2 separate regions of the Homo sapiens genome follow, and region 2 is linked to region 1. Evidence: fine-mapped expression QTL. Tissue or cell type: tibial nerve. Region 1 holds a variant in brackets; the other region holds the start of a gene. All regions are shown on one strand. Distances are from middle to middle.

The links. PIP is the estimated chance that this variant, and not a neighbour inherited with it, causes the effect.
Region 2: it holds the start of KANTR, and the variant in region 1 is fine-mapped to the expression of KANTR in tibial nerve (GTEx, PIP 0.93).

The regions. Positions count from the first base shown.
Region 1 is chrX:53,181,177-53,189,312 of GRCh38, reverse strand. It overlaps a transcript of KDM5C not described here. Among named protein-coding and RNA genes, the nearest start is that of MIR6895, 10 kb to the left of the region's middle. RefSeq lists an enhancer at 1-134 and a silencer at 315-394. The variant G/A (reference allele first, on the strand shown) is at 4,798.
Region 2 is chrX:53,090,818-53,098,953 of GRCh38, reverse strand. KANTR (KANTR integral membrane protein) reads right to left here and starts at 4,812. Exons shown (of 3, transcript NM_001397448.1): 1 at 4,670-4,812. RefSeq lists a silencer at 4,484-4,633 and enhancers at 4,694-4,813, 5,124-5,183, 4,896-5,720.

The DNA.
Region 1 (8,136 bases):
CTGTGCTAGACAGAAGGGGTCCAAAGTAATCAGCCTGCAATCCGGAAATAGTTCACAGTGGGAGCTCAGTGTTGATCTCTGCTGTTGGTAGGTTGGGAATTCAGCAGTGCTAGGGCCACAGTGGCCTTGGTAGGTTAGAAGTTCATATTGCCGAGGTACATAACCTCCACGCCTATCTCTATTGGTTATATATTTGCTACATAACAAATTATCTCAAAAACAGTGGCTTAAAACAACATTTTATCTCACAGTCCCTGTGGTTAGGAATCTGGGCACAACTTAGCTGAGTTTCTGTTTCAGGGTCTCACAGCCAGCAAGGTGTGAGCTGGGGCTACAGTCATCTCAAGGCTTGACTGGGGAAAGATCTGCTTTCAAGCTGACTCATGTGGCTGTTGGCATATTCAGTCTTGCTGGCTGTTGGCTGGGGGTCACTCTCAGGTTCCTTGCCATGTGCACCCTTTCATAGGGTGGCTCATAATATGGCAGCTTGCTTCATCACAGCAAACAAGTAAGATGAGCTAGAGATAGAAGGAGAGTGCCCACATGCCAGACAGAACTCATAGTCTTTATAACTTAATTTCAGATGTGAGATCCCATCACTTTTGCAATATTCTATTCGTTAGAAGTAAGTCAGTTACTGCCGGGCACAGTGGCTCACACCTGTAATCCCAGCACTTTGGGAAGCTGAGACGGGCGGATCACCTGAGGTCAGGAGTTCGAGACCAACCTGACCAACATGGAGAAACCCCATCTCTACTAAAAGTACAAAATTAGCTGGGTGTCGTCGCGGGTGCCTGTAATTCCAGCTACTCAGGAGGCTGAGGCAGGAGAATTGCTTGAACCCGGGAGGCAGAGGTTGCGGTGAGCCAAGATCGCGCCATTGCACTCCAGTCTGGGCAACAAGTGCAAACTCCGTCTCAAAAAAAAAAAAAGTAGGTCAGTTACTAGGTCCAGGCCACACTCAATGGGAGGGGATTACACAAAGGTGTGAATACCAGGAGGCGGGGGGTCATTGGGGGTCATCTTGGAGACTGACAACTATAGTTTTTCCACTGGTCCTGGTGATTCATGTTGCTTCCACATGCAATATACATTCACCACTTCCCAAAGTCTCTCAAAGTCTCATCCAATTACAGCATTGCCCCAAAATCCAGAACATCTAAATCAGGTCCATATATGAAAGAGGCTGTTTGAGTATGGCTTCTTAACTACTATTTTTCTCCATCTTTAGATTTGTGAGACAATTGTTTTTTTGTAAAAAATTATTTTTTGGCCGGGTGCAGTGGCTCACGTCTGTAATCCCAGCACTTTGGGAGGCCGAGGCGGGCGAATCATGTGGTCAGGAGATCGAGACCATCCTGGCTAACACGGTGAAACCCCGTCTCTACTAAAAATACAAAAAATTAGCCGGGAGTGGTGGTGGGCGCCTGGAGGCTGAGGCAGGAGAATCGCTTGAACCCGGGAGACGGAGTTTGCAGTGAGCCGAGATCACGCCACCGCACTCCAGCCTGGGCTACAGAGCAAGACTCCGTCTCAAAAAAAAAAAAGAAAATTATTTTTTATTTTTATTTTGTTATAGAGACGAGATCTTACTATATTGCCCAGACTGTTCTCAAACTCCTGGGCTCAATCCTTCCACCTTGGCCTCCCAAAGTGCTGGGATTACAGGCATGAGCCACCGTGCCTGGCTGATTTGTGAGACTTAAGAGGCAAGTTATCTGTCCCCAACACACCCTAGGTACAATGGTGGGATAGCCATAGGACAACTACTACAGACATTCTGGTTCAAAAAGAGGGGAAATGGGAGACATAAAGGAGTTACTGGTCTATAACTAACAACTCTGAAATCCAGCTGGGAAAATGGAAGTTTCTTGATTAGATGTCAAGGCCTGGGAATAATATTCTAAGGCTCTGCCCTCTGATCTCTTGGTTTTACCCTGTGTGCCTTCCTTTTTCATGAAAGGCAGCAAATGTTTGCAGCTGAACTGTTTCCCCAGTTTGCTTCCTGCCAGTAGAATTTTGGGGGTCCAGTGGCTTTTTTTCATTTTGTCTTGTCTGTAATCAGCTGCCACCAAGAAATAGTTCCACAGGGGGGCTTGGGTTACTGTTCTGTTGGCAGGTTGGGCACTCAGCAGTGGCTTATAGCCAGATTGGTCGTGGTGGAAGTCCATATTGTGGAGTCCATGCATAACCTCCATGCCTGCCACCATGGCCATTTTGTTCAGGAATCCATTGGGCAAAGAAAAGGGTGACAGATAAGAGGCTGACTGACATCACAGAACAGGACACCTACCTGTCTACTTGATTGAGCTCCTCTTCTGCAGTGGACTCTCTCTGGTGCTTATTTATGTGGGACGTGAATATCTCTGCCCATTCCAAGAGGGACAGCCATATGCTCTTCCTCAGACCTTGTCAATAATATTTCAGTCCTGTTATTTCCAAGTCCTTCACCATTTAGCCGAATCATTAAAAACTACTCATGAAACAGTGGAAACCTATCTATACCTCTGACCAGCTATGTGACCAGGCAGTTGTTCTACTGGGAGAATTTCCCTTCTCACTGTCCTTCAGGATCAACCCTAAGTAGGGCTGTAACACTACAGCTAGCTACTTCAGCAGGGCCAGCATATCATGCAGGGCTATGTATAAACCAAGCTGGAATAGAATATTGTATCCCTTAGTCACCTGGTCACAGGGAATTCCCCATGAGGCTTCAGGTGTGGGTGAGAGAGGGATGGCAGTACAGCAGTTGGGAGTATGATTCACTTGCTCAGGCAGCTTATTCATCATCTAGGCCTGCTTGTATAACTCTATTCTATTCGGTGGTGGAGTGCTACTGCACATAGATAACTTCGTGGCTTGATGAGACAGTTAACACACAACTCACCATGGGGAGCTCAGCTTGCCTGGGTCACTTGGAGTCCTATGCTCAGCCATTCATTCACAAAATAGACCCACTTTTCCATTTTTATTTTTCTCTGCTCCTGGGACTCCTGTTGTCACGATATTGCCACCTCCAATTTTATCCCCCATTTCTTGAATCTTTAACTTGCTCTTCAGCTGTAGTCCTCCTCCCCTTTATGCCATCTATACTGTGTAGATTCGAATAGTATATCCAAGAACTGGAGAAATCACCACAGGATTTCTTCTGGGCCCAGTGTAAGAAAGACTCAGATCAAAACTTCATGTATAACCCCATCCCACTCTGACTGATGGGCTGCAGTGGCAATCTGGATCACCAGAGATTAACATTAATTCAGAACCAATATCCAGTCTATTTCAAAGGCCTGGATATTTCCCTGTCCCCAGTGTACAATGACTGTGGCTGCAGGTCTCTGTGAGGAAAGCAAGGAGGGAGATTTTGCCATACACACTTGTGAAAAGTGTAGCAAGGTCCTTCTTCAGATGGACCCTCCCCTTCATTCAAGGGGCTCTGGTCTATGAACTGGGGAAGAGGCTGGGATGCCACATTTTTGAGGACAAAATCAGGCCTCCATTTTCCAGAGTAGAAGATTATTGGGGTTATATAACAACTAGGACTTTATCAGGCTACCTATTTTGGTCCTAGGGAAACTATCCTTAATTATCCACTGTTATACAAACCTCCACAGGTCAAACCTGATTATTGCTATGGCTCTGCTATCCATTATAAGAACGAGACCCAACTTCTCTTTGGAGATGAACCTGTCACCTCCATTGAAATCAGGGAGCCCATTCATGATTTCTCACCATGACCCTCACCTGCAGAAATAAATCACTGCAATGCTTTATAATACTGGTACTCATTCATGTACTAGTTAAGGTAAAGCTAGCTCCTGGGACAGAAAAAAATTTTCTGAGATTTAAGACAAGTTTACTTCTTGCTTCTGTAGTATTCCAAAACAGGTGTTAATAATTGAGTTTCCCTCTTCTAAGTGATGATTCAGAGGCTTAGGCACTTTCTGTCTAGAAGGTCTGCCATCTTCAAAACATGGTCATCATTGTATTTATTGTCATCTCCATCCTTAATAGCCAGAAGAGGAAAAGACCATGTGGGAGGTTTCTATGAGCCGGATGTAGCACACATCACTTCTCATATTCCATTAGCCAGAACTCAGACAATGGGCATACCCAACTGTAAGGGACACTGACAAATGTAGTCTAAATCTGTCCCTAGGAGGAAGAGGAAACAAGTTTAATGACCACTTAGCTAGTCTCTACCACAGTGTATTTCTCAAAGTCCTGTGAAAGGAATGTCAATGTCCACATAGTCAAAAGGGTGAGTTGAATGTGTTACATATGACTAATCGATTCCAACATTCTTATTGCCCTAAACGATGGATTCCCCTGCCTACACTGTACCATGGAATTTCTGGCATCTTAACCTCATTTAACACAAGCTACTATTGAGTAGAGGTTTTGGTCAATCAATAGAACAATTTTTAGAAATACTCCTAGCTGCTTCAACTAACAAAGTACATCCAGGATTGCTGATGAGTGTACCCATACTGAAAAGTTTGGCCCTACCCAAACCAGATAAAGACATCACAAGAAAATAAAATTACAGACAAATATCCTTTATGAATATAGATGCAAAATCCCCAACAAAATACTAGCAAACTAAATCCAACAGCATATTAAAAGTAGGATACGTCTTGGCCAAGTGGGATTTATCTTAGGAATGCAAGAATGGTTCAACATAAGAAAATCGATCAAGGTAATAACATCACATTAATAGAACAAAGGAAAAGAAACACATGATCATCTCACTTGATGCAGAAAAGGCATTTCAGGCTGGGTGTGGTAGCCAACACTTAT[G/A]ATCCCAGCACTTTGGGAGGCTGAGGTGGGAGGACTGCTTGAAGCCAGGAGTTCGAGACCAGCTTAGGCAACATAGCAAGACCCCATCTCTACAAAAAAAATTTAAAAATTAGCTGGGCATGGTGATGTGTGTCTGTACTCCCAGCTACACGGGAGGCTGAGGAAGGAGGCTCCCTTGAGTCCAGGAGTTTGAGGCTGTAGTGAGCTATGATCATGCCACTGCATTCCAGCCTAGGTGACAGAATGAGACCTCATCTCTCTTAAAAAAATAAAAAAGGCATACAGCTAATAAATTCAGCAAAGTTGCAAGGTGCAAGATCAACACATAAAAAGCAGTGTGCTTTTATACACTAGCAATGAGCAATCCAAAATGAAGTTAAGAAAACAATTCAATTTACAATAGCATCTGAAAGAATAAAATATCTAGGAATAAATTTAATCAAGGAGGAGAAAGACTTGTATATTGAAAACCATGAAACATTGGTGAAAGAAATTAAAGATCTAAAGAAATGGAAAGGCATCTCATGTTCATAGATTGGAAGACTTAATACTGATAAGATGTTGATACTAGCCAAAGTGATCTACAGATTCAACACAGTCCTTATGAAAATTCCAACAGCTTTTTTGCAGAAATGAAAAAGCTAGCGGGGTGCGGTTGCTTATGCCTGTAATCCCAGCACTTTGGGAGGCTGAGGCGGGCAGATCACGAGGTCAGGAGTTCGAGGCCAGCCTGGCCAACATGGTGAAACCCCCGTATCTACTAAAAATAATTTAAAAAAATTATCCGGGCATGGTAATCCATGCCTGTAATCCCAGCTACTCGGGAGGCTGAGGCAGAAGAATTGCTTGAACCTGGGAGGCGGAGGTTGCAGTGAGCTGAGATCGCGCCACTGCACTCCAGCCTGGGTGACAGAGCAAGACTCCGTCTCAAAAAAAAAAAGAAAAAAAAAAGAAATGAAAAAGCTGATCCTCAAATTCATATGGAATTACAAGGGGCCGTGAATAGCCAAAACAATCTTAGAAAAAAAAGAACAAAGTCAAATGGCCAATTTTTTTTTTTCAAGACACAGTCTTGCTCTGTTGCCCAGGCTGGAGTGCAGTGGCGTAATCTTGGCTCACTGCAGTTTGAGGCTCACTGCAGCCTCAAACTCCTGGGCTCAAATGATCCTCCTACCTCAGCATCCCAAGTAGGTGGGATTTAAAAGGCATGTGCCAATACACCCAGCTAATTTTTTTTTTTTTTTTTTTTTTTTGTAGAGACAGGGTCTCACTCTGTTGCCCAGACTGGCCTCAAACTCCTGGGCTCGAGCAGTCCTCCCACCTCAGCCTCCCAAAAATGTTGGGATTACAGGTGTGAGCCACTGTGCCCAGCCACCAATTGATGTTTTACAAGAGTGCCAAGTCCATTCAACGAGGGGAGAGATTAGTCTCTTCAACAGATGGTGCTGGGACAACTGGATTTTCACATGCAAAAGTATGAAGTTGGATGCCTAATTCACACCAGATACCATTAACTCAAAATGGATTAATGACCTAAATTTAAGTCCTAAAACCATAAAACTGGAGGAAAACATAGGAGTTAATGTTCATGACCTTGGATGTGGCAACAGTCTCAGGTGTGACACTACAAGCATGAGCAACAACAGAAAAAACAGATAAATTGGACTTCATCAGAATTAAAAATTTTGTGCATCAAAGGACATCAAGAAAGTGAAAAGACAGCCTACAGAATAAGATAACATATTTGCAGTCATATATCTGATAAGGATTTACTATCCAGAATATACAAACAACTCCTACAACTCAACAACAAAAAGACAAGCAATTCAATTTAAAAATGGGCAAAGGAGGCCAGGCGCAGTGGCTCACGCCTGTAATCCCAGCACTCTGAGAGGCCGAGGTGGGCGGATCACCTGAGGTCAGGAGTTCGAGGCCATCCTGGCCAACATGGTGAAACCCATCTCTACCAAAAATACAAAAATTAGCTGGGCGTGGTGGCATGTGCCTGTAATCCCAGCTACTTGGGAGGCTGAGGCAGGAGAATCACTTGAACCTGGGAGGTGGCAGCTACAGTGAGCCTTTCCAGAAATTTTTATGTTATATATAGTTTACCACAATGAAAAAGTTTGGCCCAGCCAGGCGCAGTGGCTCACACCTGTAATCCCAGCACTTTGGGAGGCTAAGGTGGGTGGATCACCTGAGGTCGGGAGTTCGAGACCAGCCTGACCAACATGGAGAAACCCGTCTCTACTAAAAATACAAAATTAGCCAGGCCTGGCGGTGGATGCCTGTAATCCCAGCTACTCGGGAGGCTGAGGCAGGAGAATCACTTGAAATCGGGAGGCGGAGGTTGTGGTGAGCCGAGATCAAGCCATTGCACTCCAGCCTGGGCAACAAGAGCGAAAATCCATATCAAAAAAAAAAAAAAAACAAAAAAGGGTGGCTCATGCCTGTAATCCCAGCACTTTGGGAGGCCGAGGCGGGCTAATCACGAGGTCAGGGGATCGAGACCATCCTGGCTAACACAGTGAAACCCTGTCTCTACTAAAAATACAAAAAATTAGCCAGGTGTGGTGGTGGGCGCCTGTAGTCCCAGCTACTCGGGAGGCTGAGGCAGGAGAATGGTGTGAACCCAGCAGGCGGAGCTTGCAGTGAGCTGAGATCGCTCCACTGCACTCCAGCCTGGGAGACAGAGCGAGACTCCGTCTCAAAAAAAAAAAAAGTTTGGCCCAATCAAAAATTACACTTCTTTTTCCCGATCTATCATCCATAGAATCAGTTCTCACATATTATGGAGGTTTCTTTTTTTCTTTTTCTTTTTTTTTTTTTTTTTTTTTTTTGAGACATGGTCTCACTCTGTCACCCATATTATGGAGGTTTCTGCCAGTATAAATTAGCTAAATCTTATCATTTGTGTGTGTGTGCTTTCTCCTCATAGGTTTGACTTTACTTCCTGGGACATACAGGAATCTGAATTCAGTAATGGGTCTGGAGGCAGCAAGAGATGATACGGGTGGATCTTGAAAAGATTAGCCTAACAGTGAGAGGGTCCCCAAGTCAGGCAGGACCAGCCCCATAGACTGGGGAAGAAGGGCTGCTTCTGCTGCCAGGGGAAACTCAGTGAGGGTTGGGGTTTAGGGTGCTCAGATCTATCCAAATCAATCCTGATGTTCCTATTCCTAGTCTCAAGGTCCCATTGTTCCCTAATCAGTAGCCATGTTTTTGCATATGAGACCTGGAGATCCTATGAATTCAACCTGCGTTGTAATTCAGCAACCTGCAGGATTTGGTTTTATGTCTGATTTCAGGCTGCATCAGTCCTGTGCCTGGAAGAGATAA
Region 2 (8,136 bases), 90 kb after region 1:
CAGGAGTTTGAGACTAGCCTGGACAACACAACAAGACCCCACCTTTGCAAAATTTTAAAAATTGGCTGGGCGTGGTGGCATGCACCTATAGTCCCAGCTACTTGGGAGGCTGAGGTGGGAAGATTGCTTGAGCCTGGGAGGTCGAGGCCGCAGTGAGCCGTGATCGCGCCACTACACTCTAGCCTGGGTGACAGAGCAAGACCCTGTCTCAGAAAAAAAAAGAAAAAAAGTTAGTGGATGAGGAGTTACTTCTTATGGATGAGCAAAATAGTGATTTCCTGGGATGAAATCTACTCCTGGTGAAGATGCTGTGAACACTGGAAACAACAACAAAGGATTTAGAATATTACATAAACTTAGTTAACAAAGTAGTAGCAGGGTTTGAGAGAACTGACTCCAGTTTTGAAACAAGTTCTACTGCGGGTAAAATGCTATTAAACAGCATCACATGCTACAGAGAAACCCTTTGTGAAAGGAAGAGTCGACGTGCCAAACTTCATTGATATCTTATTTTAAGAATTTGCCACAGCCACCCCAACCAGCAACTACCACCCTGCTCAGTCAGCAACCATCAACATCGAGGTAAGACCCTCCACCAGCAAAAAATTACAACTTGCTGAAGGCTGGGATGATCTTTAGCATTTTTTAGCAATATAGTATTTTTAAATTAAGGTAAATACTTTTTTTGATACAATGCTATTGTACACTTAATAGACTATGGTACAGTGTAAACATAACTTTTATATGCACTGGGAAACCAAAAAATTCATCTGACTTGCTTTATTGTGTTGGTCTGGAACTGAACCTGTGATATGCCTGTATGTATCAATGTTAATTTTCTAGTTTTGATAGTTACACTGTAATTATATAATTTCTTTCTTTCTTTTTTTTTTTTTTTTTTTTGAGACAGAGTCTCGCTGTGTCACCCAGGATGGAGTGCAGTGGCATGATCTCAGCTCACTGCAACGTCTGCCTCCTGTGTTCAAGCAATTCTCCTGCCTCAGCCTCCCAAGTAGCTGGGACTACAGGCACAAGCCACCACACCCAGCTAATTTTTGTATTTTTAGTAGAGACAGGGTTTCACTATGTTGCCCAGGCTGGTCTCGAACTCCCGACCTCAGGTGATCTGCCCACCTTGGCCTCCCAAAGTGCTGGGATTACAGGCGTGAGCCACTGCGCCCAGTCTGTAATTATATAATTTCTTAACATGTGGGGAATCTAAGTGAAGAATATATGAGAATTCTTGTATAATTTTTGAAGCTTTTTAAAAGTTTGAAATTATTTTAAGTTTAAAAATTCTTGGCTGGGCCTGGTGGCTCACACCTGTAATCCCAGCACTTTGGGAGGCCAAGGCGGGTGGATCACTTGAGGTTAGGAGTTCAAGACCAGCCTGGCCAACATGGTGAAACCCTGTCTCTGCTAAAAATACAAAAATTAGCCAGGCGTGGTGGTGCATGCCTGTAGTCCCAGCTACTCTGGAAGCTGAGGCAGGAGAATCACTTGAACCTGGGAGGCGGAGGCTTCAGTGAGCCAAGACTGTGCCACTGCATTCTAGCCTGGGTGACAGAGTGAGATTCTGTCTCAAAAAAAAAAAAAAAAAAAACTTAAAACAAATGAAAAAAGGGTTGTTTGAGGAGGAAGAATGTCTGGAAAGGGTAACTAGGAGCAAGCATACCCACCCTCACCCTCACCACCCAGTTTCCCGGTAAGAGGGGTATGAGAGGGCTGCCGGGAGGACAGAGTGTTCAGGGAAAGCCAGGCTGCTACTTAAGCAATGGTTCTCACTGAGAGGTGGGGGCTGGACAATTAAAGGGTGTTTCAGGGCATTTTTTCTTTTTTTTGAGACGAAGTTTCGCTCTTGTTGCCCAGGCTGGCTCACTGCAACCCCTGCCTCCTGGGTTCAAGCGATTCTCCTGCCTCAGCCTTCCGAGTAGCTGGGATTACAGGCATGTGCCACCATGTGGGCCTGGCTAATTTTTGTATTATTAGTAGAGACGGGGTTTTACCATGTTGGCCAGGCTGGTCTTGAACTCCTGACCTCAGGTGATCCACCCACCTCGGCCTCCCAAAGTGCTGGGATTACAGGTGTGAGCCACAGTGCCCGACCCATTTTTTACTGCTTTTTTTTTTGAGACAGGGTCTCGCTGTCACCCAGGCTGGAGTGCAGTGGTGCAATCCTGGCTCACTGTAACCTCTGCCTCCTGGGCTCAAGCAATCCTCCCATCTCAGCCTCCTAAGTAGCTGGGACCACAGGCGTGCACCACAACACCCGGCTAATTTTTGTATTTTTTGTAGAGACGGGGTTTCATCATGTTGGCCAGGCTGGTCTCGAACTCCTGGACTCAAGCGATCTGCCCACCTTGGCCTCCCAAAGTGCTGGGATTACAGGCGTGAGCCATCACACCCGGCCCTGTTTGGGGGGCATTTTTGACTGTGACAATAATTGGAGATCATCAGTGACAACCCTAGCTATGGACCAGGGATGCTCAGCCCTCTGCAGTGTACAGGACAGCTCCACACCACAAAGAATCATACCACATTCCATACAACTTTAGAATATCTCACCAGTAATGTAGGTGAAAAACCTGTTCATTTGTTCTTTTATTCATTCAACAAACATTCATTGAGAAAGTCTACTAGGTGTCAAGCACTATTTTAGGTAATAGGAATGTATCATAGAACAAAAAAGACAAAAATCCCTGCCCTTCTGGAGCTTATAATTGAGTGGGAGAGTCAGACAATAAACAGCAAACATACTAAGCAGTTAATGCTACACTGTGAAAAAGGTGTAGAATACCATGGAACAGACAGAGCAGGGGCATATTAGGGGAGAGCTGCAATTTTAAACAGGATGGTTGGGGGGCCCTCTGAGAAAGTGACAGCTGAGTAGAGGCCTGAAGGAAGCAAGGGCCTGAGCCTTGTGGGTATTTGAGGAAAGAGCATTCCAGATACACGGAATGCAAAACCCCTGAGGCGGAAGTGTGCCTAAGGTGTTCAAGTAATAGTAAGGTGGCCAGCATGGGTAGATAGAGTGAGCAAGGGGGGAGAGTGGTGGGAGATAAGGTCAGGGAGATTAAGAGGGTCTCATCATGGATATTAATATATACTGATTTTTCCAGAAATTTAACGACCATATAAACTGAGAAACTCTTCCACATTGTTTTGTTTAGAACTTTGTGAAGAATTGTTCATTATTTAGGAAAACTGTGTCACTCTACCTGTGGCTTCTGAATCACCAATCAACACACATGTAGCTGTCACTATCATTAAGTGTAAGACCATTTCATCATGTCTTCTAATGGAGTCATATCCCAGTCTTTGCATATATATGTGCGATATATGTATAATATAATATTATATATTACTCTTCCTTTACTACTCTCTATATTACAATTAGGGCATTATATTGGTTTTCAGGGAATTATGGGTGTAGACAGATTCTATTTTCTATCCATTTCATTTTAGAATAGTGAAGCATTTCAAAATACACCTTATTAAAAAAAAAAAGCAATGTTGGGTCCAACAGGTATGAGAACGACCAAAGCATAGCAAGAAAATAAAGGGAGTATTCAGAAGCCAGGATGAGAATGGAGGGAATTTTGCTGATAACTGAAGGTGAGTTCCTTAAGGCCTGGTCAAAGGATTTCAGGATGGAAATAGAAAATAGGATGTCCAGGGCTGTATGGAGACATAACCAGGAGATCTGTGGGCTTCCTGTGGTGACTAACATTATATAGGATAAGGGGCTATTAAAAAGTGGTTTTTAATCTAAGTTGCTCCCAACTTTGGGTGTCTCTACCTGTTTAACAGAGTAGGCTGGGGAGCAAAGAGAGTTCTCTCTTCAATGACACCAGAAGCAACCCAAAGCCAGGCTCCATTTTTTACCCACAGAACAGGTCGGAGCCCCAGGCTAAGCTCATGTCCTCGGGGGTAAAACTTATTGCTATAAACTATGCACCTCTAACCTCTTTAGGGTTGAGAAAGAGACGGGTAAAAAGAGGAAAAACAGTAACAGAGAAAGACAGAAGCATTCAGAAAGATCCAATGGAGGAAGGGTCAGAGACAGAGAAAAGACAGAAACCAAGAGAGACAATATTCTTTTCAGTCAAGATAGTCATTATTTATTGAAAATTTTCTAAGGACCGGGTGCAGGGCAAAGTAATGCACATGCATTGTCTCAGGTACACATTATCAGACCCCCATTTGGCAGATGAGGAAACTGAGGCCCAGGCTGGTGAAGGAGATAGCTCAAGGTTTCATAGCTAGTTTAAACTGGTCAGGATTCAGCATCTTATATCTACTACGTCTCAAAAAGTGGGACAGAGACAGAGATGGGAGAGGGGATGCAAAGACAGACACGCACGCAGACGATCACGTGAGCGGCAGACCTGCATGGAACCGTTTCGAAAGACACTGAGGGTGGGAGGTGGGGCCGCGGGAGGGCAGCAACGGGCACCGACCGCTCCGCAGGGTACTCACCTGGTTGCAGTCTGGGAGCCGCAGGAGCACTCGGCTTCCCTTTGCGACCCGCACGATCCTCCGCAACCCGCTGACCTAGGGTTGAGAGGCCGCCCCAGTAAAAGCTCGCGCAGGCCCCACCCCTCGCGCGCTTCGGCCGGCCTCTTCCCGCTGCCACTCCCCCCACCGCCCCGTCTTTATGGCTTCTCACCGTACACCTCCGGCCGTCGCCGCCGCCGCCCCTGCCGCGCGCGCACAGACACCAGAGGCCTACAGCAAGATCTGAAGGATACGCTGGACGGAACCCTTCCACGGGCTGCAGCGCGAGCAGGGGCACGGGCCTACGCCGCTACCGACGGCTCCCCGGCTCCCATTGGAGGAGTGCCCTTCTGCCTTTCCAGGGATTGGCTGGGGATGGAAACATTTTATTTTTACCCCCGAGGCTTAGAGCCAAACCGAGGAAAACTCCGCCCCTTCGGGGGACTTTGATTGGTTAAAGAGCCAAGCCCACCCTTTAATAGGATTGGCCAGGAAAGGAGTGCTTGTCATGGCCCTTTGCCTGTCTATTCGACAGGTCTTCAGGCGGCTACTTGGGAATACGCAGGCGGGAAGCCGGAAGCCACGCCAGGCGCCGAGTCACTGCACAATCGAGATGCCTGGCTTCTTTGACGTTTTACTCTCCATAAGCCACCTTGCACTGCCACCGCTCTGCTAAGAGACGCGATTCTGCCCCTAGTTTCTCACAGTTCCACACCCACCTGCAGAGATTCCTAAGCCAGGTTTCTCTCGCTCAAAGTGAGCAGAGTTCCTTATTCCATGCATGGAGGATGAGGTGGCTATGGGGATGTGGCGTGTCACCTACCAGTCCCTGATACCTGCTGAGACATTGGTCAAGTGACAACCTCGCTAGGAGCCTCAGTTTAACCATCTGGAAATGGAAAGATGTTTTAAAATTTTCCTCACAATGTGTGAGGATTAAATGAGAGGGCAAATATAGATCAGTTGCCTGGGGCATAAATAATTAAGTTCTCTCCTCCCAATTCTTTCCCAGTATTCAGGCGGACAGAACTTATGGCCCAGAGAGGCAAACTGACTGGCTTGAAGTCACACAGCCAGGCCCCACCCCTCGCGCGCTCCGGCCCTGCCTCTTCCCGCTACCACTCCCCACCACCGCCCCGTCTTTGCGTCTTCTTACCGTACACCGCCGGCAGTCGGCGCAGTAAGACCCAGAATAAAACCCAGGCTTCCAAAGGAAAACTGTTTAAGAAGGAAGGAGAGATGGGAAGGACCCTCCTATTTGCAAGGGTTCTTAATTTGTATTCTGCAGACCTCTAATCGAGGCTGGGGACAGGGTTTGGAGAGGTCCATGAATTTGGATGGGAACAAATTTACACCTTTATGGCCGGGCGCAGTGACTCATGCCTGTAATCCCAGCACTTTGGGAGGCCGAGGCGGGCGGATCACCTGAGGTCGGAGTTCGAGACCAGCCTGACCAACATGGAGAAACCCCATCTCTACTAAAAATACAAAATTAGCCGGGCGTGGTGGCACATGCCTGTAATCCCAGCTACTAGGGAGGCTGAGGCAGGAGAATCGCTTGAACCTGGGAGGCGAAGGTTGCCGTGAGCTGAGATCGTACCATTGCACTCCAGCCTGGGCAACAAGATTGAAACTCCGTCTCAAAAAAATAAAACAAAATTACATCTTTATTTTCCCTCTCCTCTAACTGAAATTTAGCATTTTTCAATAAAGAATGTAACTAGGCATAGTAGCAGCAGTAGTAGCAGTACTGATTGTCACTAATAGAAATCAGAGATTTTCATATCACATTATAGATGTTGCAGATCTCTTGAAAATCATATAATTTCAATCATTATTTTAAAATCATGATAGTCATTAGACCCTCCATTAAATCTTATGATTTAATGGATTAATGGGGAGTACATATACGATTATACTATAGCACATATTTGCTTTTTCCATATTTTAATAACTATATTTCAATGTAATCAATTTCTTTTGTAATTCTAGATATTTTATTTTATGAATTTAAACAATTTTTTTTTTCTGAGAAAAGGTCTGGTGGGGCATGGTGGCTCATGCCTGTAATCCCAGAACTTTGGGAGGTCGGAGGCGGGTGAATCACCTGAGGTCAGGAGTTCCCGACCAGCCTGGCCAACATGGTGAAACCCTGTCTCTACTAAAAATACAAAAATTAGCCGGGCGTGGTGGCGGGCGCCTGTAATCCCAGCTACTCGGGAGGCTGAGGCAGGAGAATTGCTTGAACCCAGGAGGTGGAGGTTGCAGTGAGCCGAGATCGCACCATTGCACTCCAGCCTGAGCAACAAGAGTGAGACTCCATCTAAAAAAAAAAAAAAAAAAGAAAAGAAAAGAAAAAGAAAGGTCCCATTAGGCTTCACTAGATCACCAAAGGGGTCCATGGCACAAAAAATATTAAGAATATTTGTCTTGAACTCTAGGCTCCAGGAGGAAAAAGACTTGCTCTATTGGCTGGGTGCGGTGGCTCACGCCTGTAATCCCAGGACTTTGGGAGGCCGAGGCGGGCTGATCATGAGGTCAGGAGATCGAGACCATCCTGGCTAACATGGTGAAACCCCGTCTCTATTAAAAATACAAAAAATTAGCCGGGCGTGGTGGCAGGCGCCTGTAGTCCCAGCTACTCGGGAGGCTGAGGCAGGAGAATGGCGTGAACCCGGCAGGCGGAGCTTGCAGTGAGCGGAGATTGTGCCACTGCACTCCAGGCTGGGCAACAAAGAAAAAAAAAAAAAGACTTGCTCTATCTTGTTTCCCTGCTGTATCCCTATCACCCAGTTCAGTACTTCAGGCACACAGTAAGTACTCATAAGTGTTTACTGAATGAATAATAGGATTCCTTCCCAACCATCCTGCACACCCCCAACTGGGGGAGCCAGTGCCAGCCCTTTGGGTCACCTAAGGAGGGACATTCTTGAATCTAGTTTTGTCCCTGCCAATCCGATTCTACTCACAGAAGTAGGTGGCACTTTAAAGGTCTGGTCCCAGGAAATCCCAGGAACCTCCCACCCAGGAGCAGGGCCCTCTGCTGCAAAGGAGCGAGGGCAAGCTAGGAAGCATATGAAGACAAGTAGTTTCAACATGGGAACAGGCCCTAGGGCACATTGGGCCCATGACTCTTCATCCTCCTGGTTTCTGTTTAAGGTCTCAGCCAATGGGGCCTGTCTTCTCTGGCCTTCAGCGAAGACAGTATCTTGGAGCTAGATGTGACCTTAAAGACCTAGAACAGCCCTCTCTTTCGGAGGTCCAGACTGAAGAGTGAGGGCACAGGGAACAAGATGTTACTCTGGGCAAAGAACATCCTGTCCTCACATGGCTCAGCCGAGGACATGAGCACCCTGGCCAACTATACTAGAATACTATGATTGACTCTTAAGAGCATCACTGAAGATGAAGACCAGAGGCCCTCTCTAACAGGGTGGGTGAAGAAGAGTCTCAAATGCCAGGATGAGGGGCTGGGGATTTGATTGGGGGGACAGAGAGGAATCAGGGAAGAGCACAGTGAAGGCCAGACTTCAGAGACCTGCTTCAAGGCTAGACTCTGTCTTGAGACCTTAGGCAGGTTGCTTCTCCTGGACTGATCCCCCTGCACGATAAGCCTCAGTTTATAGATAGGAAAACTGA